Homo sapiens: one gene and its partner. The protein of the gene in region 1 interacts with the protein of each later gene in a pairwise test. Each region holds a gene or a part of one and is shown in the gene's direction. Other genes may lie near its edges.

Evidence for each region.
Region 2: the proteins of PROCR (region 1) and F2R interact in binary tests that used the Homo sapiens proteins (3 or more experiments, as listed by UniProt).

The regions. Positions count from the first base shown.
Region 1 is NC_000020.11:35,160,997-35,177,184, forward strand, and holds the start of PROCR (endothelial protein C receptor precursor), read left to right. Parts: upstream 1-11,075; 5' UTR 11,076-11,092; coding exon of another isoform or gene 11,093-11,158; coding exon 11,159-11,228; intron 11,229-13,705; coding exon 13,706-13,957; intron 13,958-15,171; coding exon 15,172-15,450; intron 15,451-15,701; coding exon 15,702-15,817; 3' UTR 15,818-16,188. UniProt on the Homo sapiens protein: Binds activated protein C. Enhances protein C activation by the thrombin-thrombomodulin complex; plays a role in the protein C pathway controlling blood coagulation.
Region 2 is NC_000005.10:76,720,603-76,735,882, forward strand, and holds the end of F2R (proteinase-activated receptor 1 isoform 1 precursor), read left to right. Parts: intron 1-8,109; exon of another isoform or gene 8,110-8,231; intron 8,232-11,711; coding exon 11,712-12,901; 3' UTR 12,902-15,168; downstream 15,169-15,280. UniProt on the Homo sapiens protein: High affinity receptor that binds the activated thrombin, leading to calcium release from intracellular stores.

The DNA.
Region 1 (16,188 bases):
AAGCACAAAACTGGGCGGCCATTTGGGCAGACACCGAGCTAGCTGCAGGAGTTTTCTTTTTTTTTTTTCATACCCCAGTGGTGCGTGGAACGCCAGCAAGATAGAATCGTTCACTCTGCAGGCTGGGCGCGGTGGCTCATGCCTGTAATCCCAGCACTTTAGGAGGCCAAGGTGGGCAGATCACGAGGTCAGAAGTTCGAGACCACCCTGGCCAACATGGTGAAACCCCGTCTCTACTCAAAATACAAAAATTAGCTGGGTATAGCAGTGGGGGCCTGTAATCCCAGCTACTCAGGAGGCTGGGGCAGGAGAATCACTTGAACCCAGGAGGTGGAGCTTGCAGTGAGCTGAGATTGCACCACTGCACTCCAGCCTGGACGACAGGGCGAGACTCCGTCTCAAAAAAAAAACAAAAAAAAAAAAACAGGTTTGTTCAATCCGCTGGAAAGGGGGCTGAAGCCAGGGAGCCAAGTGGTCTGGCTCCATGGGTCCCACCCCCACAGAGCTCAGCAAGCTAAGATCCACTGGCTTGAAATTCTCGCTGCCAGCACAGCAGTCTGAGGTCGACCTGGGATGCTTGAGCTTGGTGGTGGGAGGGGTTGTCCGCCATTGCTGAGGCTTGAGTAGGTGGTTTTACCCTCACAGTGTAAACAAAGCTGCAGGGAAGTTCAAACTGGGTGGAGCCCACCACAGCTCAGCAAGGCTGCTGTGGCCAGACTGCCTCTCTAGATTCCTCTTCTCTGGGCAGGGCATCTCTGAAAAAAAGGCAGCAGCCCCAGTCAGGGACTTACAGATAAAACCCCTGGCCAGCACGGTGGCTCACGCCTGTAATCCCAGCACTTTGGGAGGCCGAGACGAGTGGATCATTTGAGGTCAGGAGTTTGAGACTAGCCTGACTAACATGGTGAAACACCATCTCTACTAAAATACAAAAAAAATGAGCCAGGCGTGGTGGCAGGGGCCTGTAATCCCAGCTACTCGGGAGGCTGAGGCAGGAGAATTGCTTGTACCCAGGAGGTGGAGGTTGCAGTGAGCCGAGATTGTGCCACTGCACTCTAGCCTGGGTGATAGAGTGAGACTCTATCTCAAAAAAAAAAAAAAATCTCCCTGGGACAGAGCACCTGGGGGAAGGGGTGGCTTGGAAACAGCTTCAGCAGACTTAAACGTCCCTGCCTGATGGCTCCGAAGAGAACTCCCAGGACAACATTCGAGCTCTGATAAGGGTCAGACTGCCTCCTCAAGTGGGTCCCTGACCCCTATGTATCCTGACTGGGAGACACCTCCCATAGGGGCCAACAGACACCTCATACAGAAGAGCTCTCGCTGGCATCTGGTGGGTGCCTCTCTGGGACAAAGCTTCTAGAGGAAGGAACAGGCAGCAATCTTTGCTGTTCTGCGGCCTCCAGTGGTGATACCCAGGCAAACAGGGTCTGGAGTGGACCTCCAGCAAACTCCAGAAGACCTGCAGCAGAGGGGCCTGACTGTTAGAAGGAAAACTAACAAATACAAAGGAATAGCATCAACATCAACAAAAAGGACGTCCACTCAGAGACCCCATCTGAAGGTCACCAACATCAGAGACCAAAGGTAGATAAATCCATGAAGATGGGGAGAAACCAGCACAAAAAGGCTGAAAATTCCAAAAACCAGAATGCCTCTTCTCCTCCAAAGGATCACAATTCCTTGCCAGCAAGGGAACAAAACTGGAAACAGAGAATGAGTTTGAAGAATTGACAGAAGTAGACTTCAGAAGGTGGGTAATAACAAACTCCTCCGAGCTAAAGGAGCATGTTCTAACCCAATGCAAGGAAGCTAAGAACCTTGAAAAAAGGTTAGATGAATTGCTGACTAGAATAACCGTTTAGAGAAGAACATAAATGACCTGATGGAGCTGAAAAACACAGCACGAGAACTTCGTGAAGCATACACAAGTATCAATAGCCGAATTATCAAGCAGAAGAAAGGATAACAGAGATTGAAGATCAGCTTAATGAAATAAAGCGAGAAGACAAGATTAGAGAAAAAAGAATGAAAAGAAACAAAGCCTCCAAGAAATATGGGACTATGTGAAAAGACCAAATCTACATTTGGTTGGTGTACCTGAAAGTGACAGGGAGAATGGAACCAAGTTGGAAAACACTCTTCAGGATATTATCTAGGAGAACTTCCCCAACCTAGCAAGACAGGCCAACAATCAAATTCAGGAAATACAGAGAACACCACAAAATCAATGTGCAAAAATCACAAGCATTCCTATACACCAATAACAGACAGAGCCAAATCATGAGTGAACTCCCATTCACAATTGCTACAAAGAGAATAAAATACCTAGGAATACAACTTACAATGGATATGAAGACCTCTTCAAGGAGAACTACAAACCACTGCTCAAGGAAATAAGAGGTCACAAATAAATGGAAAAACAATCCATGCTTATGTATAGGAAGAATCAATATCGTGAAAATGGCCATACTGCCCAAAGTAATTTATAGATTCAATGCTATTCCCATCAAGCTACCATTGACTTCCTTCACAGAACTGGAAAAAACTACTTTAAATTTAATATGGAACAAAAAAGAGCCCCCGTATCCAAGACAATCCTAAGCAAAAAGAACAAAGCTGGAGGCATCACGCTACCTGACTTCAAACTATAGTACAAGGCTACAGTATACAAAACAGCATGATATACCAAAACAGATATATAGACCAATGGAACAGAACAAAGCCCTCAGAAGTAACACCACACATCTACAACCATCTGATCTTTGACAAATCTGACAAAAACAAGCAATGGGGAAAGGATTCCCTGTTTAATAAATGGTGTTGGAAAAACTAGCTAGCTATATGCAGAAAACTGAAACTGGACCCCTTCCTTACACCTTATACAAAAATTAACTCCAGATGGATTAAAGACTTAAACATAAGACCTAAAACCATAAAAACCCTAGAAGAAAACCTAGGCAATACCATTCAGGACATAGGCATGGGCAAAGATTTCATGACTAAAACACCAAAAGCAATGGCAACAAAAGCCAAAATTGGCAAATGGGACCTAATTAAACTAAAGAGCTTCTGCACAGCAAAAGAAACTATCATCAGAGTGAACAGGCAACCTACAGAATGGGAGAAAATTTTTGCAATCTATCCACCTGACAAAGGGCTAATATCCAGAATCTACAAAGAACTTAAACAAATTTACAAGAAAAAAAACAACTCCATCAAAAAGTGAGCAAAGGATATGAACAGACACTTCTCAAAAGAAGACATTTATGTGGCCAAAAAACATATGAAAAACAGCTCATCATCACTGGTCATTAGAGAAATGCAAATCGAAACCACAATGAGATACTATCTCATGCCAGTTAGAATGATGATCATTAAAAAGTCAGGAAACAACAGATGCTGGAGAGGATGTGGAGAAATAGGAATGCTTTTACACTGTTGGTGGGAGAGTAAATTAGTTCAAACATTGTGGAAGACAGTGTGGTGATTCCTCAAGGATCTAGAACCAGAAATACCATTTGACCCAGCAATCCCATTACTGGGTATAAGGATTATAAATCATTCTACTATAAAGAATACATGCAGAGGTATGTTTACTGTGGCACTATTCACAACAGCAAAGACTTAGAACCAACCCAAATGCCCATCAGTGATAGACTGGATAAAGAAAATGTGGCACATATATACCATGGAATACTATGCAGCCATAAAAAAGGATGAGTTCATGTCCTTTGCAGGGACATGGATGAGGCTGAAAACCATCATTCTCAGCAAACTAACACAAAAACAGAAAACCAAACACTGCATGTTATCACTCATAAGTGGGAGGTGAACAATGAGAACACATGGACACAGGGAGGGGAATATCACATACCAGGGCCTGTCAGGGGGTAGGGGGCTAGGGGAGGGATAGCATTAGGAGAAATACCTAATGTAGATGACGGGTTGATGGGTACAGCAAACCACCATGACAAGTGTATACCTGCGTAACAAACCTGCACATTCTGCACATGTACCCCAAACTTAAAGTATAATAAAAATTAAAAAAAGAAATCTAAACACAGAAAAGGTACAGTAAAAATATGGTATAGTCGATTTTAAAAGGTACACCTGTAGAGTGTGTACTTCATGCATGGAGCTTGAAGGACTTGGTGTTGCTCTGAGTGGGTCAGTGAGTGAGTGGTGAGCAAATGTGATGGCCTACGACATTACTGTACACTACTGTAGAATTTATCAATACTGTTCACTTAGGCTGCACTAAGTTTATGCAAAAATATTTTTCTTTCTTCAGTAATAAATTAACCTTAGCTTACTGTAAAAAAAAAAAAAGTGAAAAGTTAATATTTATGTGTTCTGTGTTCAGGAAACCAGGAGGAATGGATTTGGCTGAAACTGGAATACATGGATAGATAAGGCTAGAGAGATAGGCAGGAGCCAAGCCAACAATACTAGGCTCCCATCAATTGCTGGGGCAGGCAAGAGCAGGCATCATCCTGAGTGTTTGGAGCTTCTTTTCATGTTCCCTAAGTTGGGGGGTGTTGGGGGGATGATACAGGGGGAAATTCTGATTAAGACTTAACATCTATTCCTTTGCCTTCTCTTCAAGAAGTCATACTTGATGTCCATCCCTCCTGGACAGGGTCCGTTCTGTTTGCTGCTAAGCTCCTTTCTTATCTCTCCCACCTACTGAACACGTACTGTGTTCTGGGAGTTTTGAATGCATCATCTTGTTTATCCTCATGAGATGGTCTAATAATGAAGAAAGCATGTTTTGGCATCCAACTCACCTGGGTATGAGTCCCAGCTCTGCCTTTTACTAGCTGGATGTCTTTGAGCAGCTCAGTTCCCTGTTCTGTGCTTCTGTGTCCTCATCTGTAAAATGGGAACGACGGCTATTTCTTCAGACTGCCCTCCCTCCCTCCTTTTCTGTCTCCCTCCCTCCCTCCCTTCCTCCCTCCCTCTTTCCCCCTTCTTCTTTTCTTTTCTTTCTCTCTTTCTTTCTTTTCTTCTTTCCTTCTTTCTTTTTTCTTTCTCCTTCTTTCCTTCCTTCCCTCCTCTCTCTCTCTCTTTATTTCTGTCTGCCTGTCTTTCAACAGGGTCTTGCTATATTACCCAGGCTGGTCTCAAACTCCTGGACTCAAGCAATCCTCCCAGCTTGGCCCCCCAAAGTGCTAGGATTACAGGCCTGAGCACCTGGCCTGGACTTTCTTCAGACTTTTCACAGGGTACTAGTGAGAAAAAAATACATGGACTCTGCTTACTTAATACTGTGCCTGGCACATTGTAAGCTCTTCGCACATGTTATTGTTATTATTCCTCATCCTAAGGGGGAAGTGCCTTTGAAGGGTCCACACTCCTTTGTTACCCAAATTGGGCCAGGTTGCTTAAACTGCCGTTCTTCAGTAGCTAACAACAGGGGTGGGAGAGCCTGGTCCTCTGAAGTCCAGCTGGGCACACGGCCAGTCCCTGGCCTGTCCCTGCTCCTGCTGCCCTGGCAAGGCCTCCCTCACCCACTGGGGCTGCACCAGCACTGGCCCCAGCTCAGCTTCCTGTCTCCCTTATCTTCCTCCAGCATGTGCTCTCTGGAGTAGGAAACACCACCGCTTGCTTCCTTCATTTCCCTTTGCTCAACGGGACCCTCATTCTTTAGGTCTCAGTCAAATCCCAGCTGCTGGCCTGGTGCCCACTCTGTGATTTTCTACACCTCAGCCACCCAGGCCAGATGCAGTGTAGGCCATGGCTCCAACAGCAGCATTTCTCTTTTCTTCCCCACCCCCATCCCTGGGTTTAGAATGAGAAAAGGCTCAAGTTGCCCCCCTCCCAACTTCCCTACCCGCAACACTCTTTTTATTTTCTCTGTTCCCAGCTCCATACTTCCATGCTTTTTTTTTTTTTTTTTTTTTTTTTTGAGATGGAGTCTTGTTCTGTTGCCCAGGCTGGAGTGCAGTGGCAGGATCTCGGCTTACTGCAACCTCCACCTCCCGGGTTCAAGTAAGTCTCCCACCTCAACCTCCTGAGTAGCTGGGATTACAGGCACGCCACCATGCCCAGCTAATTTTTGTATTTTTAGTAGAGACGGGGTTTTACCATGTTGCCCAGGCTGGTCTCAAACTCCTGACCTCAGGTGATCCATCCACCTTGGCCTCCCAGAGTGCTGGGATTACAGGCATGCCCAGTCCCATACTTTCTGAGTTCAAATCCTCGCTCTGCACTTCCAAGCTGTGTGACCTTGGGCAAGTTACTTAACTATTTTTCTGGGCTTTGATTTTTTTTTTTTTTTTTTGTACAGAGGAGCAGAGGAGGATTCATCAGGTTGCCCAGGTTGGTCCAAACTCCTGGGCTCAAGGGATCCTTCTGCCTGGGCCTCCCAAAATGCTGGGATTACAGGCATGAGCCACCATGCCCAGTTTTTTTGGTTGTTGTTTGTTTTGTTTTGTTTTGTTTGAGACAGGGTCTCTTTCTGTCACCCAGGCTGGGGTGCAGAGGCACAGACATAGCTCACTGCAGCCTTGACCTTTTGACATCCTGGGCTCAAGCCATACTCCTGCCTCAGCCTCCCAAGTAGATGGGACCACAGGTGTGTACTACCATGCCTGGCTAATTTAAAAAAAATTTTTTTGTAGAGATGGAGTCTCATATGTTGCCATGCTGGTCACTAATTTACAGGCATGAGCCACTACACCCAGGCAGCTTTATTTTATTTATTTTTTTGTCTGTAGCATGGAAACAATGAGCATGGTCTGCCCCAGAGAAAGTGATTAAAGGCCTAGCACATAGTATGAATTTAAAGAATGTTTTATAACATATATATTAAACATTCAAGCATGTTGGAGGTATGTGTTAAAAAAATGTATTGATGGAAAGTGATCAAAATAATTTTTGAGTCACTGTGTGGGAGTTAAATTCACAAACTTTGGCACCAGAGAGAGAGAGAAACTTTCAAATTATAGCTTTTGCTGTGTGACCTTAGGTAAGTCACTTAACCTCTCTGAGCCTCAGTTTCTTAGTAAAATGGTGATGCTAGTGAAACCCATTTCACAGGGCTAGCATAAGAATAAAGTAAGATTATTTAAGTAAAGAGCCGAACACTGTTTCTGGCCTACAATAAGTGTTACCTATAATAATGCTATCATTGTCTCACTGTTCAATTTTCAGGGCTCTAGTATATGAGAGGGGTGCTTGGGAAATAGCTGTTGCTGCTGCTATCTGTCCATGATGGATCTTAACCTGATTAGAAAGGCCTCCATGTGGCTGGGCGTGGGGGCTCGTGCCTGTAATCCCAGCACTTTGGGAGGCCAAGGCAGATGGATCACTTGAGGTCAGGAATTCGAGACCAGCCTGGCCAACATGATGAAACCCTATCTCTACTAAAAATGCAAAAATTAGCCAGGCATGGTGGCACCTGCCTGTAATCCCAGCTACTTGGGAGGCTGAGGCAGGAGAATTGCTTGAATCCAGGAGGTGGAGGTTGCAGTGAGCAGAGATCATACCATTGCACTCCAGTCTGGGCAACAGAGCGAGACTCCATCTCAAAAAAAAAAAAAAAAAAAGAAAGAAAGAAAAGGAAAGAAAGCCCTTGATGTAATGAGCTCTGTGTAAGATAATGTGGATGAAAGTGGACCCAGACCCTACCCGCTTAGATGGAAGGCTCACAGCATTCAATTCCAAATTGGTTCAATCGTACACTCTTTTGCCCTCTCTTATCCATCCCAAAGTACCCTTCAAGCCTTCAAGGGAGAAAAAAGGCAAAGCAAAAATATGCACAACCTCACTAAGAACCAGAAAAATGCAAACTAAAACCAAAGAGAAATGCCATTTTACACCCAACCATCTGATAATGCCAAGGGCTGGCAAGGATGTGAAGCGAGGGAATTCTCATACACTGCTGGGAACGTAAATTGGCACAACCTTTCTGTAAAACAGTTTGGCAATATCTAGTAAAACTGAAGATGCATATACTTTATTACTCAGAAATTCCACTGTCAAGTTTGCACCTACAAAAACTCCCACATATGCACAAGGACTCGAGTATGAGAATGTTCATACCAGCACTGTTTGTAATAGCAAAAAACTGGAAAAAACTTAAGTGTTCAGCAACAAGAGAATGGATACATAAATAATGATCTATTCCCAAAATTGATTTTTTTTTTTGAGACAGGGTCTTGCTCTGTTGCCCAGGCTAGAGTGCAGTGGCATGATCATGGCTCACTGCAGTCTCAACCTCCTGGGCTCAAGCAATCCTCCTACCTCAGCCTCCTGAGTAGCTGAGACCACAGGCACAACCCATCACACCCAGCTAATTTTATTTTTTTTGTAGAGATGGGGGTCTCACTATGTTGCCCAGGCTGGTCTTGAACTCCTGGGCTCAAATGATCCACCCACCTCGGCCTCCCAAAGTGCTGGGATAATACCTCCCCAGCCGGAATATTTTAAAGCAGTGAAAATGAATGGTCTACACATAGCCACATGAATGAATCTTATTAATACATTAAGTGAAAAAAGCAAAAGGTACAGAGGAATACATACATTTTAATACCATTTATATAAAGCTCAAAATATGTGAAATACCACTATCTATTGTTTAGGGATATATACATAAGTAGTGTAAGTATACAGAAATATAAGGAAATGAAAAATATCAAATCTTCATTTTCATCTGAAGTGGTTACTTCAGGGGCTGTGGCAGGGAGAGAGAGATGCAGCTGAGGAAGAGTCCATAGGGGGCTTCAACTATATTAGCAATATTGTATTTCTTATGCTTGGTGGTGGGGATAGGTATGTTTGAAATGTAATCCTTTAAGCATGAAATAACTCTTCAAAAATGAAATATTTCAGGCTGTGCACAGTGGCTCAGGCTTGTAATCCCAGCATGTTGGGAGGCTGAAGTGGGCGGATCACCTGAGGTCAGGAGTTTGAGACCAACCTGGCCAACATGGTGAAATCCCATCTCTACTAAAAATACAAAAATTAGCCAGGTGTGGTGGCAGGTGACTGTAATCCCAGCTACTTGGGAGGCTGAGGCAGGAGAATCGCTTGAATCTGGGAGGTGGAGGTTGCAGTGAGCCGAGATCACGCCACTGCATTACAGCAAGACTCCATCTCAAAAAAAAGAAAAAAAAAAAGAAAAAAGAAATGTTTCATAATTTTTAATAAAAGGCAAGACAATATAAATTGGTAGTTATTTAAGTCATTCTACTTTTCCTGAGGCCCAGTGCAGGAAAACAAAGTTCCTATCCTTGTTCCAACTAGACCATTTTGATAAGCTGCAAAAAGAAAAGACTTTGATGCTATTTCTTAGCCAGTTTGCAACAGCTGAGAGGTGAGCATGGAAGCTCTTGCATATATTCAGTTCAGAGAATGGGTGCTTAGTTTATGTCCAGAGTTTGTCCCAGATTTCACTATGACGTCAGCTCTCCGGGGAGAAGTATATAAAATAAAAAGTTAAAATCCCTCTCAGTCCTTTACCCAATCCTATTCCCCAGAGGTAATCTCTATTGACAGTACCCCTCCAGATATTTTCCCTATGTATATACAAATACACAGATACACACTGAAAGTTAATTTTGGCCAGGTGCAGTGGCTCCTGCCTATACCAGAGGATTGCTTGAGTGCAGGAGTTCAAGACCAGCCTGGGCAACATAGCGAGACCACATCTCTAGTAAAAATAAAAAAAAATAGCTAGGCGTGGTGGCACAGTGGCACGTACCTTTAGTCTCAGCTACTCGGGTGGTTGAGGTGGGAGAATCACTTGAGCCCGGGAGGTCAAGCCTACAATTAGCTGTGATTGCTTCACTGCACTATAGCCTGGGCAACAGAGCTAGACCCTGTCTCAAAAAAATAATAATAAATTTTATATATATATATGAGGATGAAATTACATATGTATTATTTGAACAGAAGTGAAATCTTTTCTTTTTTTTTTTCAGACAGAATCTTGCCGCATGACCCAGGCTAGAATGCAGTGGTGTGATCTCGGCCCTCTGCAACCTCCACCTCCCAGGTTCAAGCGATTCTCATGCCTCGGTCTCCCAAGTAGCTGGGATTACAGGCATGCACCACCATGCCCAGCTAATTTTTGTATTTTTCGTAGAGACGTTCGCCATATTGGCCAGGCTGGTCTCAAACTCCTGGCCTCAAGTGATCTGCCCACCTCGGCCTCCCAAAGTGCCAGCAGCATGCTCGGAGGAGTGACTTTAAAGCTTTTCTACTTGCTTCCTAGAGTAAGGGACGCATTTTACACTGCTATCCAAAACTCATCATAGAAACATACACACACAAAACCAAAGCACACATATACAACTGAGCAAATATTTCATGACATAACACTTTCTCTTACTAAGGGTGACGCGCTGAAATTTTGTATTCTGTCCTATTTCATTTTTTAAAAATGGTAACCATGACCTGCTAAATTGATTTCATTGTCCACTAATAAATTATGACCTCAGTTTCAAAAAGATTGCTTTAGGTAACCAATCATCTTCTGAGATTTATACAGATTGCTCATAATTCTCTCCTATTTTTTAAAAACATGCTGCAGTGAACTGCTTTACACTCATTTTATGACTACTTCTGAGACCAAGATCCCGGATTATGTAATTGTTATTTACTTAAAATTCTGGTAAAATGTAGCCATTATACTGGAAAACTAAATTTTAATCTTGGATCTGTCACCACCATGATATATAAACTTTGGGCAAGTCCCTGCACCTCTCTGGACCTCAATCTCCCCATCAGCAACCTGCTGATCCTACTCCCAGGAGTGTGCTCTAAGTTGAAAGTAGATGCCCCACCCCCTGAGTCAGCGCCGGCAGGACTTCTCACCAAGCCCTTCTCCCCCTTTTCCGCTCCCTGTTCCTGGTTCCTAGGAAGCAGCCCAAGGAGAAGGGAAAAGGCAGGTCTGGGCAGGAGGGAGCAATGAAGGGCGGGGCAGAGGGAGGGCAGGAGGGAGGCCGGCCCCCTAGTAGGAAATGAGACACAGTAGAAATAACACTTTATAAGCCTCTTCCTCCTCCCATCTCCTGGCCTCCTTCCATCCTCCTCTGCCCAGACTCCGCCCCTCCCAGACGGTCCTCACTTCTCTTTTCCCTAGACTGCAGCCAGCGGAGCCCGCAGCCGGCCCGAGCCAGGAACCCAGGTCCGGAGCCTCAACTTCAGGATGTTGACAACATTGCTGCCGATACTGCTGCTGTCTGGCTGGGCCTTTTGTAGCCAAGACGCCTCAGATGGTGAGTCGGGGGCACATCTCCTGCCTCAGGATGGTTCTGGAGAATCTCAGTCTATCTGGGCACATGGCAAGACCACAGGAGAGCTTATCTCACAGCATCTGTGTCTGCAGCTGGCTAGATCTCTCTACAGGGCAGGCAGAGTCTTGGGGACTGGTTCGTGTCCCAAAGCCAAGGTGAGTTAGTACATTTAAGCCCCTGAAAAGGGGGAGATGAAAGAGGCTAGGGGAAACAGGATGACTGGAAACATGAGAAAGAAACCAGCAGAGAGGGTAGGAGAATCAGCCCCAGGGAGAGGGGAGAAAGGGGAACTGAGGGTGATGGTAGATAGGGGTACATCTAGGGGAGACGGGAAGAGGCTCAGAAGAGAAGAGAAATGGAGGGAATGGGAAGACCCTGGGAAAACTGATGGAAGAAGTGGGGGAAGAGTGGGGCAGAGAGAGGTTAGGGGAGGCTAGGGAAAATGGAAGGAGACTGGTCGCAGCTGGTGGAACTGGGGAGAAAGAGATGCTGTGCCTAATAGAACTTATGGGCGATCAGGCTACTGAAGTGGCCCTGTTTAAGCAGAAAAGGGAGTTATTACCCTCCATTATAATTGCACAGGGGCCTCCTTTCCCCTCTCTCACAATCCCCGTAACTTCAGTCTCCCCCTCAGAGAGGCAGCAAATAATAACCAGTATTCAATGAGTGCTCACTATGGTTAATACATGTATTGACCCATTTAACTTGCACAAACCCCTAAAGGTGGGTAATATTATTACTATCTCCATTTTATGAGGAGGAAACTGGGTCACAGAGTAGTTAAGGACCATGTCTAGGGTTATCCATAAATATACTTATTCACATCTGCAGATACAAAGCACAACTTCTCAAATGCAAACACAGACAGGACCCACTCACACACACAGATTTACAACCCCGGACTCATCCAAATGTGCTCTGGGCATCAACTCTGTGCCAGCCTCTTTTCTGGGTGTAGGAAGCAGAGATTACCAAGCATGGTTCCATAGCCTAGAGGAGTCCAGTGTGGCCTGTGTGTGTTTGGAGACAGCCAGGTAGTATCCCGTGAGATACACACTAATATATGGTGGTCTGGGATCACTGAAACAGACACACTGTGTCTCGTGGGGCATCAGAAAAAAATTTCCAAGAAGAGGGCAACTGAGCTGGGTCTTTTTTTCTTTGCTTTTCTTTCTTTTTTCTTTTTTTTTTTTTTTTTTTTTTTTGAGATGGAGTCTTGTGCTGTCACCCAGGCTGGAATGCAGTGGCACAATTTCAGCTAACTGTAACCTCCAACTCCCAGGTTCAGGCGATTCTCCTGCCTCAGCCTCCTGAGTAGCTGGGACTACAGGCATGTACCACCACGCCTGGCTAATATTTGTATTTTTAGTACAGATGGGGTTTCGCCATGTTGGCCAGGCTGGTCTTGAATCCCTGACCTCAAGTGATCCGCCCGCCTCGGCCTCCCAAAGTACTGGGATTACAGGCATGAGCCACCGCGCCCAGTCTCTGAGCTGGGTCTTAAATCATGAATAAACTTCGCCAGGCAGAAAAAGGGAGGCAGAGCAATCCTGACATGCTATTCATGTGTCAGCCAAAGGCAGCATGAGGAATCCCAACTAGTTTGATATATAAGCAGCGGGAAGCGGCCAGAAAAGGCAGCAGGGGCCAGGTCTCTAGCAGCCTTGAATGCCAGGCTAAAGACTCTGGACTTGATCCTGTGGGGAGGCAGTGTAGCAGAATGGCTGAGTGCTGGACTTGACTGCCTACGTGCAAACCTTGGCTCTGCTACACTATCTCTGTCTCAGTTTCCCATGTAGACTGGGGTTAATAATAGTAGCTATTGCATTAAGCCACTGGGGAAAGGCACAAAGATAATAATGTATGTAAAGCCCATTGCCCAGGTTATAATAAGCACTGAATCGACATTGGCTATGATTATTTTTGATTAATGAAGGGGAGGGGGTTATGGCACTGGAAGATTTTAAGTAGGAAAAGGACATGATCTCATCCCTGGGTCAGGTGGAGGTCGGAATAGAGAACGGGGAGATGAAGTAGAAAGTTACTACCCCAGTCTAGATGAGACGGATGAATCCTGAATCAGGGCAGTGGAAGAGGAGATGGAGAACAGGCGATGGAATTGGAATTTTATTCAGGTCAGGATTTGTTAACCATTTGTTCCGTTGGTTAACAGGAAACGGGGGGAGGGAGAGCCGAGGGTGAAAAAGGAGGCAGAAAGGAGTGTCTCTTCCACTGCAGGCCTCAGTTTCCTCATCTGTAAAACGGAGATAATAATCCCTGTCCTGTCCTCCTGGCAGAGTTACTGTCAGCGTCAAACGGGAGAAGCGGTGGGAGGGCACATTATAGTTTATGAAGGGTCGAGAAGGCGGGCGGCCAGCCTCGAGGTAGGGGGTTATTATCTTCCGCTGCCCGCCGCCCCCTCCCACGCCGGCCCAGGCTGAAGCTGACTCTGCCCGCAGGCCTCCAAAGACTTCATATGCTCCAGATCTCCTACTTCCGCGACCCCTATCACGTGTGGTACCAGGGCAACGCGTCGCTGGGGGGACACCTAACGCACGTGCTGGAAGGCCCAGACACCAACACCACGATCATTCAGCTGCAGCCCTTGCAGGAGCCCGAGAGCTGGGCGCGCACGCAGAGTGGCCTGCAGTCCTACCTGCTCCAGTTCCACGGCCTCGTGCGCCTGGTGCACCAGGAGCGGACCTTGGCCTGTGAGTAGGCGCGCAGCGGGGGCGGGGTCTGGGCGGGGCTAGTGGGGGCGGGGCCTGGCGGGTGGGGGCGGGGCCTGGCGGATGGAGGCGGGCTGGGACTTGCAGGGACCCGGCAGCCACTGGAGCTCGGTGGCGCCTGGGCCTTTGAAGATTGCTGGGTGGGGGCTGGAGAGAGGCAGTTGTCCCCGCTAAGAAAGCCCCGACTCGGGCGGTCGTCCTGCTGGCATAACCTCTTGGGATAGACCCTGTTGGAAGGCCCTGACACCGTGACGTCGAAGGTCCCCAGAAAACTCCTCACCCCTCGCCTCACAGTCCTCCAACTCCTTTTCTTCATAGATCTCCGTCCTTCCCTTCCCACAGCCCCCAGCACTTCACCCCCCACCCTCCAGCCACTTCTCATACAAGCTGATGACTTCGCTCTTAGCTCCACTCATGACCCGAACTCTTCCCCCAAAGACCCCAAGTTCTTCTCTCAAAGCCCCACTCCTTCCCCGTCACAACCCTAACTCCTTCTTCTCAAAGACCCCAATTTCTTTTCTCAAAGCACCAAGCACCACTCCGTCCCCCTTCCCCCACCATCATGGCCTTTAACTCCTTTCTCTCCTAGTCCCCCACCCCACCCCCCTTTTTTTTTTTTTTTTTTTTTTTTGAGACGGAGTCTTGCTCTGTCGTCCAGGCTGGAGTGCAGTGGCGCGATCTCGGCTCACTGCAACTTCCGCCTCCCGGGTTCAAGCGATTCTCCTGCCTCAGCCTCCCAAGCAGCTGGGACTACAGGCACCCGCCACCACGCCCGGCTAATTTTTTGTATTTTTAGTAGAGACGGGGTTTCGCCATGTTGGCCAGGCTGGTCTCGAACTCCTGACCTCAGGCGATCCACAAGCCTGGCCTCCCAAAGTGCTGGGATTACAGGCGTGAGCTGCCGCCCCTGCCCCAGCCTCACCCCCTGTTTTTTTTTTCTATTACAGTTGAACAAGGCCTGACAATTCCCTTTTTTCATCACAGTCCCTGGCCCCTTCTTTCTTAGCCTCTAACAGGCTAACCCCAAACCCCTCCTCACAGCCCCAGGCCCTTCTCCCCATAGTTCCCTGACCTAGACTCCCCTCTCCTCACAGCACTGACTCTTGCCTTCTCATGTTCTTTTCCCCTTGGTGGGCCTCGCCCCACACCTGGCACCCTCTCTGCACAGTCCCCTGACCCTGACTGTCTATCCACAGTTCCTCTGACCATCCGCTGCTTCCTGGGCTGTGAGCTGCCTCCCGAGGGCTCTAGAGCCCATGTCTTCTTCGAAGTGGCTGTGAATGGGAGCTCCTTTGTGAGTTTCCGGCCGGAGAGAGCCTTGTGGCAGGCAGACACCCAGGTCACCTCCGGAGTGGTCACCTTCACCCTGCAGCAGCTCAATGCCTACAACCGCACTCGGTATGAACTGCGGGAATTCCTGGAGGACACCTGTGTGCAGTATGTGCAGAAACATATTTCCGCGGAAAACACGAAAGGTATGATGGGACGGGGCCCAGGCCTGCAAGCTGGGGAGAGGGCGGGTTCCAGACAAATGGATGGACCTGAAGGATGGATGCCTAGAGCAACAAGAGGCCCACAGCTGGGGGTTTGGGACAGAACACACGCAGCTTCAGTCAGTTGGTAAACGGGTCCCTTTCCTCTGGGGCAGAAACGCTTTGGGGTTTGACTCAAATCATGGACTCCTTGGGGGCCTATTCTTCGGGCTAACTCTTTGCATGTTCTGCAGGGAGCCAAACAAGCCGCTCCTACACTTCGCTGGTCCTGGGCGTCCTGGTGGGCAGTTTCATCATTGCTGGTGTGGCTGTAGGCATCTTCCTGTGCACAGGTGGACGGCGATGTTAATTACTCTCCAGCCCCCTCAGAAGGGGCTGGATTGATGGAGGCTGGCAAGGGAAAGTTTCAGCTCACTGTGAAGCCAGACTCCCCAACTGAAACACCAGAAGGTTTGGAGTGACAGCTCCTTTCTTCTCCCACATCTGCCCACTGAAGATTTGAGGGAGGGGAGATGGAGAGGAGAGGTGGACAAAGTACTTGGTTTGCTAAGAACCTAAGAACGTGTATGCTTTGCTGAATTAGTCTGATAAGTGAATGTTTATCTATCTTTGTGGAAAACAGATAATGGAGTTGGGGCAGGAAGCCTATGGCCCATCCTCCAAAGACAGACAGAATCACCTGAGGCGTTCAAAAGATATAACCAAATAAACAAGTCATCC
Region 2 (15,280 bases), on another chromosome or scaffold:
CCCCTACCTACTTCCAAAATCCTGTCATTTCCCCGAAAGGAAACCAGTAAGCAGTCAGATCCCATTCTCCCTTCCCCTACCCCCAGGAACCACCAGTTTGCCTTTTTTCTCTATGGATTTACCTATTTTTGATATTTCATATCAATAGAATCATATAATATGTGGTCTTAGTGTCTGGGGAACTTAACTTTAGGTGGGTTAAAGTTGTTGTTGCTGTTTTTTTGAGACAGGGTCTAGGTGTCTTACTCAGGCTGGAGTGCAGAGGCACAAATTTGGCTCACTGCAACCTCTGCCTCCCAGGCTCAAGCTATCCTCCTAACTCAGCCTCCAGAGTAGCTGGGCTACAGGCACCTGCCACCACGCCTGGCTAATTTTTGTATTTTTAGTAGAGACGAGATTTTATCACACTGCCCAGGCTGTTCTCAAACTCCTGGGATCAAGCGATCCACCTACCTTGGCCTCCCAAAGTGCTGGAATTCTAGGCGTGAGCCACCATGCCCAGTCTTTAACTAGTTTTCGTGAGCACCTAGGCTCCCCTTCCATTGCGGATACTCACAAAAACATCCTTGTTAGAAGAGTTATTAGGACTCAGGGCCTTGGTTTATTTTTGACTATGATACTAGTGTTGAGGACTCCATAGTTTTACCATTCATAATTTTCTGTTTGTTTCCTTTTTTGCGATTTCTTTCATTCTGCCTTTTTCTTTCTCTTGCTTGTGCCTAAAACTGTCGTCATAAATAGCTCTGTCTATATACTGAGAATTTTTTTCTGGGCATGAGCTTTCACTTCCCCAGATACCGTCTCCCACACTGACCTTGTCGTGGTACTTGGAGGAAGCCACTTAAAGGGCCCTGACGGTCCTATATACATTATTTGCTTTCAAAAGTAAGTGGCCTTTTGAAACAACAGGAGTAATCTGCAATTTGCCCTTGAAAACACATTTATATAACTTTAGGAAAAGACATTATGTAATCTATTTATATTTCAAGTCTATGATGAATTAAAAATCAGGTATTATGGTATTGTAGAATAGTGTTTACCAGTACAGTATTTTCCTCTTTCGTAACCAACAGTAAGAACTGTAGAAACAACACTTCACATTCTGATATGGTAGGGATGTGTGTTTTCAATAAATATGTGTGGACAATCATAGTATATATGTAAACATGAAACAAAAGTTTTACCAAACAGTGCTCACCTTTACTGCATTGTATGCATTTTGATATTTTCCACAAACAGTGCTCACCTTTACTGCATTGTATGCATTTTGATATTTTCCACACTATATTCTATTTTTAATGCTTATTGCAATCTTGTGAATTGATTTCATAGCCATTGCTAAATCTATAACATAATTTAAAACATATTGCAGCAGCTACATGAATATTCCTATGGTAGCCAAATCAAAGGCCTTATTAGCTTTTCAGGAAGAGTTCTGTTTTCCTGGAACTGTTGTTTATTATTGTTCTTATCATGTCTAGAACCTAATTTATTTGAGTTCAGATATACAGACTGCAGAAGGACTTGGGCAGGGTTGGGCATGGGGACAGTTTTTATAGTACAACTCACAGTATTTTGTACAATACAAAGCTGTCCCCATCCCCAGCCCTGGGGAGGAATTGGTGATCATTGACATCCTTGACTGTGAATTAGTTTTCATTTTAGCTAGATGTCTTGTTGGAGAGTAGAGATCAGCATTCCCAAGACAGAGAGCTCAGGACCTGTAACTTTTCTTGGAGAACAGACCTGGAGAAATGGGGAAAGCCGGGGAACCTGAGTAGTTCCCGGGCAAGGCCTGCTAGCATCCTCACCCCACGTCAGGCTCTGGCCTCCAGGCTGCTCCAAGCAAGAGCCCACACACTTTCCTTATGTAGTCTTCATGCCTGCTGTGGCGTTGGGTACACCTGCGTTTACTTTCCTGCAACTTCCCTTCTCCCAGCTTCCTCTTAGGCTTGCTTTCCTATGCTTCCAGAGGAGTACCTGCTCCAGGACATGGAATGGGAGGAGAGGAGGCCTCTGATATTGGCAGCTTCTTCTGAACCCCAGTCAGTCAAGAATTCTACCTTTAGGTTGGGCACGGTGGCTCATGCCTGTAATCCCAGCACTTTGGGAGGCTGAGGCGCAGATCACTTAAGGTCAGGAGTTGGAGACCAGCTTGGCCAACATGGTGAAACCCTGTCTCTACTAAAAATACAAAAATTAGCCGGGCATGGTGGTGCACAACTGTCATCCCAGCTACTCAGGAGGCTGAGGCAGGAGAATCTCTTGAACCCAGGAGGCAGAGGTTGCAGCAAGCCAAGATCGTGCCACTGCACTCCAGCCTGGGAGACAGAGTGAGACTCTGTATCAAAAAAAAAAAAAAGAATTTTGTCTTTAATTCTGCTTTTTCTGTAGCAGAGATTTTTGTTCACTTACTGCTCTTGCATCTGCTCCATCTAGAACAGTGTTTTAAAGATGTATTTTTCTGTTTTGTCCTTGAATATCTCCCTGCTATCTCTCTCCTGTGTGTAAGGACCAAGTTGTTGGCATGTGTGGTTGGTGTGCAGCCAAAGTCAGTAGGACTCCAGAATTCCCAAGCTTTGGGCATCATCACGTTAAGCTAGCCATTCACATGTCCACATACTGCCTACTGTAGCTAAAAGGATGGGCAGATTCATTTGTTTGGTGACATGCAAAGAGAAAAAGATGGTACTCTTTTAGAAGTAGGTCATGAATCACAAGTTTTTAAGGAGAGAATAGCGTGGAGTGGTCAAAAGGTATGACCTTTGGAGCTGGGCAGACCTAGGTTCAAACCCTGGCTCCTCTACTTCATAGCTGTGTGACTTTGGATTAGTTACTTAGCCTCTCTGTGCCTCCATGTTGTCATTTATAAAATGGTAGTTATAATGCTCATGTCATAGAAATGTTAGAATTATATGAACTAAGGCAAGTGAAGTATCTGGCACATAGTAGGTGCTCAAAAAGATGGTAAGGTTTTTTCATACACCAATGCTTCCATATTCCAGAAAAGCTTTTGAAGAGTTGATACCAAATAAATTATCTAAATATAAGACAATCTTCACACAAGCATGCAAGAACATTTTCCCCTTCAGAACTAGGACAAAAGAAAAAAGCAAAAACCCTTGCCCTTAACTTCTAGTGGCAAATAAACATGCATACAGTATTTGTTTGTTTTTTTAACTTTTATTATGGGATTTTTCAAACATACCCAAAAATGAACAGTATAGTTACTCCCCATACCCATCATCCAGCTTCAACATTATTTACATGTCACCAATCTTGTTTTATCTAAACCCTCAAGTTTCCTCCTCTCCCAACTGTATAATTTTAAAGCAAATCCCAGATATCATATTATGTCATTCATAAAAACATCAGTAAGCATCCTTAGAGATTAGAACTCTTTTTTCCACATAACCACAATACAATTATAATACCTAAAAAATGAACATTTCCTTCTGTTTTTTTGTTTGTTTGTTTGTTTTGAGACACATTCTTACTCTGTTGCTAAGGCTGGAGTTCAGTAGCACAATCATGGCTCATCCACAGTCTCAACCTCCTGGGCTCAAGCAATCCTCCTGCCTCAGACTCCAAAGTAGCTGGGACTACAGGCACACACCACCACGACCAGCTAATTTTTGTATTTATTTTAATAGACATAGGATTTTGCTGCATTGCCCAGGCTGGTCTGGAACTCCTGGGTTCAATCAGTCCTCCTGCCTCGGCTTCCCGAAGTGCTGGCATTACAGGCGTGAGCCACCGTGCCCGGCCTAACAATTCCTTAATATCATCTGATAATCAGTCAGTGTTCATATTTACCTTATTGTCTCATAAATACCTTTTAACAGTTGGTTTGTTTGAATCAGGTTCAAACAAGGTCCACCATTACATTTTAATCTGTAACTGCCCCCCCACCCCTTTTTTATTGCTATTTATTTGTCAAAGAAACTAAGCCATCTGTCTTAGTTCTTATTTGTCAAAGAAACTAAGCCATCTGTCTTTTCTACATACTGGATCTGGCTGACTGCGTCTTCAACTCATGGATCTTAACATGTATGAAATGTTTCAATTCATTTCCATCATTATTCTTTTGATGGTCAAATTGGTGATCAACATGTCACATCTTTGGTCAGTGGGAGCCCTTTGAGATTGACTCCAGCGTCTTTTTGACCTAACCCTGATATTCTTTGAAGATGTTCAATGTTCATCTTGTGTATTTCCTACCCCAGATCTGGAACTAGTCATTTCTTTAAGAAGCCCCAGTTCTTTTCATTGGAAAATGGTGTTTGTTTGAATCTGAGGGAGTAAAACATTCCAGTAATGCTGGTGTTTTCCACTTGACAGAGTTAGTGTGATTCTGTTATTTTCCTGTCCTCCTCTTCATTTCTCTTTAGCCTGTAGTGTTGTTTCAACTCTTGTGCTCTGTGTGGGAATGTGAGCAAAGTCCTGGGACTTCTGCTTTGTTAACTCTGAAAAAGCATGAGCCCCGAAGGGCAGAACTGTGAGTCAAAACCATGTGTGTCATGGAATGCTGGTGTGGTATAAATCCCAGGATCAAATGCGACATTCAGAGATCCTCTAGTCACCCCTCTGCTTCCAGGACAGATCTCATCACAGTCAGAAAACGTGTTGCCTAACTCACTAATTTTTAAAAATCGCCACAGTTAAAGAGTCCGTATTTAAACTATTTAATAATTTGCTGTATTCGATAACAAAACTACTCTAGAGCAATTTAGAAGAGCCTAAATTAAGTGAAACTTAGCAAATCGTATGAGAACTGAATTCAGGACCTCTGCTGCCTTTTTTGTGAAACCATAGCTTAACCAAAAAAAAAAACAGAGATGAATGATAAGAGATTTGGGCACCTTCACAAGCACTTTCTCCTTGACCTGAGTTGTGCTAGGACTGGAGGAAAAGCGAGATACTTAAACTCAAATTTCAGCCTAAGGGTCTTGAGCTAGTTGGAATTGTCTAGTCACCTTGCATTGGTTTTGTCCTTTCTTTGATGCTGGTATATACTACATTTTTTCTTTTCTTTTTTTTTCCGACATTCTTTAATTTCACAAAAACCAGAATATCAAACCCATAGTATCAAGAAAAGGTAACACCTTAGGCAGCGATATTTAACCAAGGGATTATACATTCTTCCTGAGCTCTAGCCTATAAAAATTTCATGTTTCCACAAGTATAATGTTCCTGTCGGAAGTACCGTCTGCCTGAGGCCTACCCAGAGAAGATGTTTTTTAAAACAAGTACTTACTGCCTAAGTACTAAATACAGAGTAAAGTCTAGTGACAGTTTTATTTTCAGACTAAGTGATAGTATCTGAAGAGCTTAGTTGTATTTATTAGTTTTCACATTGTGTCAGTCTCTCAGGTGTCATCTTGATTCATGTATGTAAGTATGCATGTTCATGTCCACTTTTTCCCCTCTGTGCATCACAAAAGCCCATAATCTGGCCAGGCTTCCAAAACTGCAGAGGAGAATTGCATTATTTTAAGGTTCCTTGGCCAGGTGCAGTGGCTTATGCCTGTAATCCCAGCACTTTGGGAGGCTGAGGTGGGTGGATCACTTGAGGCCAGGAGCATGAGACTAGCTGGCAAGCATGGTGAAACCCCATCTCTACTAAAAATACAAAAATTAGCTGGGCAGCCGGGCGCGGTGGCTCACACCTGTAATCCTAGCACTTTGGGAGGCCGAGGTGGGTGGATCACGAGGTCAGAAGATAGAGACCATCCTGGCTAACACGGTGAAACCCCATTTCTTCTAAAAATACAAAAAATTAGCCGGGCGCGGTGGCAGGCACCTGTAGTCCCAGCTACTAGGGAGGCTGAGGCAAGAGAATGGCGTGAACCCGGGAGGTGGAGTTAGCAGTGAGCCGAGATAGAGATAGCGCCACTGCAGTCCGGCCTGGGCGAAAGAGCGAGACTCTGTCTCAAAAAAAAAAAAAAATTAGCTGGGCATGGCGGTGCGTGCTTGTAATCCCAGCTACTTGGGAGGCTGAGGCAGGAGGATTGCTTGAACTGGGGAGGCAGAGGTTGCAGTGAGCCAAAATCGCACCACTGCTCTCCAGCTTGGGTGACAGAGCAAGACTCCATCTCAAAAAAAAATTGGTTCCTCTAGATCAGCATTTTTGCATATGCATGTTTTTGTGATATTAAAGTGCCAGAACCACAAACAAAAAAAATTAAAAATAAAAAAAAATGTTTAAGTGCCAGAAGCCATTCATTCTTTTCTTTCAGCACCCACACACTCATTGTGATCTTGAGAACAGCCTCACATCCACAGGGTCTGTTGGTACCAAGGTCAGGCTTCTGTGTGACTGGGGCAAGGTGAACACAGAGTAAGTTACATGCATTGCAAAGGTAAGAGAGTGATACTTCCAGAAAAGATTGTGAATTCAAAATTTGATTTATAGCTCTGAACCCTAGAGCTATATAATATACAACTTGTTCATTCCCTCATTGTACTAAAAAACTATAAACATTGCTAAGTAGGAGGGAAGATGAACCTAGATTTCCTTTTAACTTAATTAAGTGAGCAAACAATTGGGTATAAAAGCACACTACATGGAAGTGGGAGAGGAAGGATAATAGTAATTTCTTAAACTGCTTAATCGTTATGGTTTCCAAAGTGAATGTATGTCCTGTTTCACACGGGATGCTCCAGTTGCCAGATTTGTAGGCCAGACAGGAATTAGAATTCCATTTTAATGATTCTGAGCTTAATTCAGAGAAGTTAAGTGATCCCTGAACAGAGTCAATATTAGAATACAAATATGTGCCTACCACATGCAGGGCACAGGGTACTGGAGGTTCAGAGATTAACAGGAACAGTTCTTACCCTTAAGGATCAATGTAGACACAAGTGTGTATTCACATTCATCACTGGAGACATTCATTCCTTCCCTGTGACAGATCTCCTGCCAGGCCACCCCTTCATTGTCTGGAGACCCTCTCCCAACTTTGCTTAGGTAGCTTGACCTCAACCCTACACTACCAGGCTCTGCTCTGCTGTCTCTGAGTTGGTACTACTCTAGCTTTGCTCTTCATTTTGGAAATAGATGCCAACATATTGTATTTTATTTTCTATTTCTAGAATTTCCACTTGGTAGTTCTTTGCTGATATTTCCTATTTTCAGTTCATTTCTATAAAATATTTTTCTTTTTTTTTTTTTTTGCACATGGTTGTAATACATTCTTCAAAATCCTTATCTGCTAATTCCAACATCTGGGTCAACTTGAGGTTGGTTTCCGCTCACTGTCTTTTTACTTAAGACTGGGTCACTTTTTTTTTTTTTTTTTTAGAGACAGAGTCTCACTCTGTTGCCCAGGCTGGAGTACAATGGTGTGATGATACCTCACTGTAGCCTCGATCTCCCAGGCTCAACTTGTCCTCCCACCTGGGCTTCCCAAAGTGTTGAGATTACAGGTGTGAGCCACCACACCTGGCAGCCCCCTTTTTCTTTTATTTGACAAAAAATTATATATATTTATAGTGTATAACATAATGTTTTGAAATATGCATAACTTGTGAGATGGCTAAATCAAACTTATAACATGTATTACCTCAAATACTTATCATTTTTTGTGGTGAGACCACTTAAAGTCTACTCTCTTAGCAATTGTCAAGTATACAACACATTGTTATTAACTATAGTCACCGTATTATACAAGAGATTTTTCTAACTAATTCCTTTTAACAGAAATTTTGTACCCTTTGACCAATGTCTCCCCAGTCTACCCTACCCACCCATCCAACCCCAGCCTCTACTAACCACCATTCTCTTCTCTGCTTCCATGAGTTCAACTGTTTTCGATTCCACATATAAGTGAAATCATGCTATATTTGTCTTTCGGTGCCTGCCATATTTCACTTAACATTATGCCCTCTCGGCTCATCCATGTTGTTGCAAATGACAGAATTTCCTTCTTTTTTAAGGCTGAATAGTATTCCACTGTGTATATACATCATATTTTTTATTCATTCATTCATTCATCAGTGGATACCTAGTTTGATTCCATAACTGGGCTATTATAAATAATTCTGCAATGAACATGAGATTGCAGCTATTGACATCCTGGTCTTTTTTTTTTTTTTTTTTTTTTTGAGATGGGGTCTCGCTCTGTCGGCCAGGCTGGAGTGCAATGGCGCAATCTCAGCTCACTGCAACCTCCGCCTCCTGCGTTCAAGCAATTCTCCTGCCTCAGCCTCCCGAGGAGCTGGGATTATAGGTATGCGCTACCAAGCCTGGCTAATTTTTGTAATTTTAGTAGAGACAGGGTTTTGCCATGTTGGCCAGGCTGGTCTCAAACTCCTGACCTCAGGTGATCCACCCACCTTGGCCTCCCAAAGTGCTGGGATTACAGGCGTGAGCCACCGTGCCCAGCCAGCATCCTAATTTTATTTCCTTTGGATGTATGCCCAGCAGTGGAATTGCTGTATTATATAATAGTTCTATTTTTAGTTTTAGAGGAACCTTCATACTGTTTTTCGTAATGGCTATGCCAATTTAAATTCCCACCATCAGTATAGATGGGCTTCCTTTCCCCGTATCCTCACCAACACTTGTTATCTGTCATCTTTTTGATAATATCCATTCTAACAGGTATGAAGTGATAACTCATTGTGGTTTTAATGTTCATTTCCCTGATTAGTGATGTTGAGCATTTTTTCATATACTTGTTGGCCATTTGTATGTCTTCTTTTGAAAAATGTCTATTCAGATCCTTTGTCCATTTTTAAATCAGGTGATTTGTTATCTTGCTGTTGAGTTATAGGAGTTCCTTATATATTTTGGATATTAACCCTTTATCAGACGTATGGTTTGCAAATATTTGCTTTCATTTCATAAATTTTCTCTTCACTGTTGATTGTTTCCTTTGCTGTGCAGAAGCTTTTTACTTTGATACAGTCCCAGTTGTCTACTTCTCCTTTTATTGCCTGTGCTTTTATGGTCATTATAAAAAATTACTGCCCAGACAATGTCATGAAGCTTTTCCTCTATGTTTTCTGCTAGTAGTTTTACAGTTTCAGGTCTTATGTGTAAACCATTAATCCATTTAAGTTGGTTGTTGTATATAGTGTGAGAGAAGGGGGACAAGACGTCCAGAGTTTATCACTTTTGTGTATATTGGTTGGATCTGGTGATAACGATTTGGCTCTATGTCCCCACCCAAATCTCAACTTGTAGCTCCCATAATTCCCATGTGTTGTAGGAGGGACCCAGTAGGAGATGATTGAATCATGGAGACGGGTCTTTCCTGTGTTGTTGTCATGATAGTAAAATGGGTCTCTCAAGATCAGATGGTTTTAAAAACAGGAGTTTCCCTGCACAAGCTCTCTCTTTGCCCGCTGCCATCCAAGTAAGATGTGACTTGCTCCTCCTTACCTTCTGCTATGATTATGAGGCCTCCCCAGCCATGTGGAACTGTAAGTCCAATAAACCATTTTCTTGTATAAATTACAGGAAAAAAGACTCTGGATTTTGTTATATTCCTTCAAAGAGTGTTGGTGTTTTTGCTTTAGCAGCCAATTAATTTGGTTTTACTCAAGCAGCAGACTCTTTCTCTCTTGAGCAGAAGCTTAAATATCACTTCAGTTCTTTTATCTTTAGCAGAGGTGCTTCTCATCTTTCCTACAAATGCATAGTTCAAGGGTCAGCCAAACCCTAGGACAGAAGTTATACTGAAATTTAGGGCTCCCCCTCTCTGACTTTTTCCTTTCCAGGATTCTCTCCTAACTTTCCAGTGACTGTGATTGCCCTGAACTCTGTCCTCTGGTTCTGTAGGCCAAAAAGACTACGGATTTTCTATCTGGGTTTTAGTCACCTTTTATGTTATATAGGCACTGCTGTTATATAGGAAAAACCAAACTATTTTCCCCAAACTGTTTTCTCTTACCCAGCACTTCACTCAATCCTTCTGACACCGTATGTCTGGAGCTTGTTTCTCCACATACCAAGCAACCAATTCTCCTGCAGATTCTCCAGTGGACACCAGCTGGGTATCCTTGAATATAATTCAATTCTGGACACTATCTACCTCTAATATAACTCAATTCTGACACTATCTATCTACCTGGAGATAGAGTCAGATTCCACAGATTAAGGGCTCAGTTTCACAACGCTGCCTTCCACTTCAAATGGCAGTCATAAGTCTGGGCCTCCAGACTTCTGACCACACTATACATTGGGAGTTCCTAAGGCCCCCTGCTCAGATTCGATTAATTTGCTAGCATGATTCACAGAACTCAGGGAACCACTTTACTTACTTTTATCCATTCGTTATAAAGAAAATTACAGAGGATACAGATGAACAGCCACATGGTAGAGATGCATAGGGCAGCGATTGTGGGAAGGAGCACAGAGTTTCCATGCCCTCTCTTGGGCACTACCTTCCAGGAACCTCCATGTGTTCACCTATTTTTGGTTGATACTCCAAAAACCTTGGTTGGTCTGGCATGAGTGGCCAAGAACATCGGCTGCTCTGCTGACCTGCTCAGGAAAGAAGTAGAAGAATGACTGAGATGATGGGTACCTTGTGACTATGTTAGGAGATAACCCCAGGGATTGTGGTTTGGACCCAGATATAGTGAGAGATTTCTACATTCTCCTGTGTAAGCAAACTAAAGACTGTAGAGGAAAACTACTGTCATGGACATTGGCCGTAGAATTGGGAGTCCTGAATCCCATTATTAATTTGCCTCTAACTCCAAAACCTTTAAGAAATCCCCTCTGGTGGCACGTGCCTGTAATCCCAGCTACTCACGAGGCTGAGGCAGGAGAATTCCTTGAACCCCGGAGGCGGAGGTTGCGGTGAGCCGAGATCGCGCCACTGTGCTCCAGCCTGGGCAACAGAGTGAGACTGTGTCTCAGAAAAAAAAAGAAAGAAAAAGAAATCCCCTCTACTTTTTTTTTTTTTTTAATTTCTATTTATTTTTATTTTTTGAGACGGAGTCTCACTCTGTCGCCCAGGTTGGAGTGCAGTGGTGTGATCTTGGCTCACTGCAACCTCTGCTGCCCAGGTTCAAGCGATTCTTCTGCCTCAGGCTCCCAAGTAGCTGGGATTACAGGTGCATGCCACCGCACCTGGCTAATTTTTGTGTTTTTAGTAGAGATGGGGTTTCACCATCTTGGCCAGGCTAGTCTTGAACTCCTGACCTTGTGATCCACCCACCTCGGACTCCCAAAGTGCTGGGATTACAGACGTGACCCACTGTGCCCAGCCTAAATCCCCTCAACTTTCTATGTGGATTTTTCCATTGAAAAGGGACAGGTTTCATGGGATGACTGCAGACTAAATGGAGAAAGTGTGCACATGAAGGTATGCGGAGGAAAGAGAAGTCATGGAAGCTGGGAGTGATTTGTTTATATAGACAGTGGCTAGCGTGGAAATCAATGATTGATCCCTTTATGTCAAGTACTCAGCCTTTCCTAATGTCTTCAGGGTAGATCTCTGAAAACCTATCATTCACCTTTGTCCCTTTGAGGGGCAGAGTTTAGGAAGTATTGCTTATATCAAGACAAATGTTTCACAGTATTTTGAGTTGGCTTATTCTCTAATAAAGTCTATTTGTGCATTATCTGCTCTTTACCACCCACTCTCCTAGTAAGAAAACATAAACAAAAGTAAAATATGCTCTCTGCTTGTCGCTTTTGCCTTGTTGATGCGTTCACTTTTTACATTTAAAATTTTTTTAATTTTATTTTTCAGAATCAAAAGCAACAAATGCCACCTTAGATCCCCGGTCATTTCTTCTCAGGAACCCCAATGATAAATATGAACCATTTTGGGAGGATGAGGAGAAAAATGAAAGTGGGTTAACTGAATACAGATTAGTCTCCATCAATAAAAGCAGTCCTCTTCAAAAACAACTTCCTGCATTCATCTCAGAAGATGCCTCCGGATATTTGACCAGCTCCTGGCTGACACTCTTTGTCCCATCTGTGTACACCGGAGTGTTTGTAGTCAGCCTCCCACTAAACATCATGGCCATCGTTGTGTTCATCCTGAAAATGAAGGTCAAGAAGCCGGCGGTGGTGTACATGCTGCACCTGGCCACGGCAGATGTGCTGTTTGTGTCTGTGCTCCCCTTTAAGATCAGCTATTACTTTTCCGGCAGTGATTGGCAGTTTGGGTCTGAATTGTGTCGCTTCGTCACTGCAGCATTTTACTGTAACATGTACGCCTCTATCTTGCTCATGACAGTCATAAGCATTGACCGGTTTCTGGCTGTGGTGTATCCCATGCAGTCCCTCTCCTGGCGTACTCTGGGAAGGGCTTCCTTCACTTGTCTGGCCATCTGGGCTTTGGCCATCGCAGGGGTAGTGCCTCTGCTCCTCAAGGAGCAAACCATCCAGGTGCCCGGGCTCAACATCACTACCTGTCATGATGTGCTCAATGAAACCCTGCTCGAAGGCTACTATGCCTACTACTTCTCAGCCTTCTCTGCTGTCTTCTTTTTTGTGCCGCTGATCATTTCCACGGTCTGTTATGTGTCTATCATTCGATGTCTTAGCTCTTCCGCAGTTGCCAACCGCAGCAAGAAGTCCCGGGCTTTGTTCCTGTCAGCTGCTGTTTTCTGCATCTTCATCATTTGCTTCGGACCCACAAACGTCCTCCTGATTGCGCATTACTCATTCCTTTCTCACACTTCCACCACAGAGGCTGCCTACTTTGCCTACCTCCTCTGTGTCTGTGTCAGCAGCATAAGCTGCTGCATCGACCCCCTAATTTACTATTACGCTTCCTCTGAGTGCCAGAGGTACGTCTACAGTATCTTATGCTGCAAAGAAAGTTCCGATCCCAGCAGTTATAACAGCAGTGGGCAGTTGATGGCAAGTAAAATGGATACCTGCTCTAGTAACCTGAATAACAGCATATACAAAAAGCTGTTAACTTAGGAAAAGGGACTGCTGGGAGGTTAAAAAGAAAAGTTTATAAAAGTGAATAACCTGAGGATTCTATTAGTCCCCACCCAAACTTTATTGATTCACCTCCTAAAACAACAGATGTACGACTTGCATACCTGCTTTTTATGGGAGCTGTCAAGCATGTATTTTTGTCAATTACCAGAAAGATAACAGGACGAGATGACGGTGTTATTCCAAGGGAATATTGCCAATGCTACAGTAATAAATGAATGTCACTTCTGGATATAGCTAGGTGACATATACATACTTACATGTGTGTATATGTAGATGTATGCACACACATATATTATTTGCAGTGCAGTATAGAATAGGCACTTTAAAACACTCTTTCCCCGCACCCCAGCAATTATGAAAATAATCTCTGATTCCCTGATTTAATATGCAAAGTCTAGGTTGGTAGAGTTTAGCCCTGAACATTTCATGGTGTTCATCAACAGTGAGAGACTCCATAGTTTGGGCTTGTACCACTTTTGCAAATAAGTGTATTTTGAAATTGTTTGACGGCAAGGTTTAAGTTATTAAGAGGTAAGACTTAGTACTATCTGTGCGTAGAAGTTCTAGTGTTTTCAATTTTAAACATATCCAAGTTTGAATTCCTAAAATTATGGAAACAGATGAAAAGCCTCTGTTTTGATATGGGTAGTATTTTTTACATTTTACACACTGTACACATAAGCCAAAACTGAGCATAAGTCCTCTAGTGAATGTAGGCTGGCTTTCAGAGTAGGCTATTCCTGAGAGCTGCATGTGTCCGCCCCCGATGGAGGACTCCAGGCAGCAGACACATGCCAGGGCCATGTCAGACACAGATTGGCCAGAAACCTTCCTGCTGAGCCTCACAGCAGTGAGACTGGGGCCACTACATTTGCTCCATCCTCCTGGGATTGGCTGTGAACTGATCATGTTTATGAGAAACTGGCAAAGCAGAATGTGATATCCTAGGAGGTAATGACCATGAAAGACTTCTCTACCCATCTTAAAAACAACGAAAGAAGGCATGGACTTCTGGATGCCCATCCACTGGGTGTAAACACATCTAGTAGTTGTTCTGAAATGTCAGTTCTGATATGGAAGCACCCATTATGCGCTGTGGCCACTCCAATAGGTGCTGAGTGTACAGAGTGGAATAAGACAGAGACCTGCCCTCAAGAGCAAAGTAGATCATGCATAGAGTGTGATGTATGTGTAATAAATATGTTTCACACAAACAAGGCCTGTCAGCTAAAGAAGTTTGAACATTTGGGTTACTATTTCTTGTGGTTATAACTTAATGAAAACAATGCAGTACAGGACATATATTTTTTAAAATAAGTCTGATTTAATTGGGCACTATTTATTTACAAATGTTTTGCTCAATAGATTGCTCAAATCAGGTTTTCTTTTAAGAATCAATCATGTCAGTCTGCTTAGAAATAACAGAAGAAAATAGAATTGACATTGAAATCTAGGAAAATTATTCTATAATTTCCATTTACTTAAGACTTAATGAGACTTTAAAAGCATTTTTTAACCTCCTAAGTATCAAGTATAGAAAATCTTCATGGAATTCACAAAGTAATTTGGAAATTAGGTTGAAACATATCTCTTATCTTACGAAAAAATGGTAGCATTTTAAACAAAATAGAAAGTTGCAAGGCAAATGTTTATTTAAAAGAGCAGGCCAGGCGCGGTGGCTCACGCCTGTAATCCCAGCACTTTGGGAGGCTGAGGCGGGTGGATCACGAGGTCAGGAGATCGAGACCATCCTGGCTAACACGGTGAAACCCGTCTCTACTAAAAATGCAAAAAAAATTAGCCGGGCGTGGTGGCAGGCACCTGTAGTCCCAGCTACTCGGGAGGCTGAGGCAGGAGACTGGCGTGAACCCAGGAGGCGGACCTTGTAGTGAGCCGAGATCGCGCCACTGTGCTCCAGCCTGGGCAACAGAGCAAGACTCCATCTCAAAAAATAAAAATAAATAAAAAATAAAAAAATAAAAGAGCAAACTATTTCCAAATACCATAGAATAACTTACATAAAAGTAATATAACTGTATTGTAAGTAGAAGCTAGCACTGGTTTTATTAATTTAGTGACTATTCATTTTATCTAAATCAGTGAAGATTTACTGTCATTGTTTATTAGTCTGTATATATTAAAATATGATATCATTAATGTACTTACAAAATAGTATGTCACTGTTTTTATGTTCATTCTTAAAAACATAACCTGTATTAATAAATGTGAACATTTGCTTGGTATCTCTTTGGAACAAATTAGTATTATATCTTTCTGGTCCTGGCACACTTTAAGGGTTTAACTGAAGAGCATTTAATGAAGAGGTGATTTACAAAGGTGTAGACAGGGTTAAGG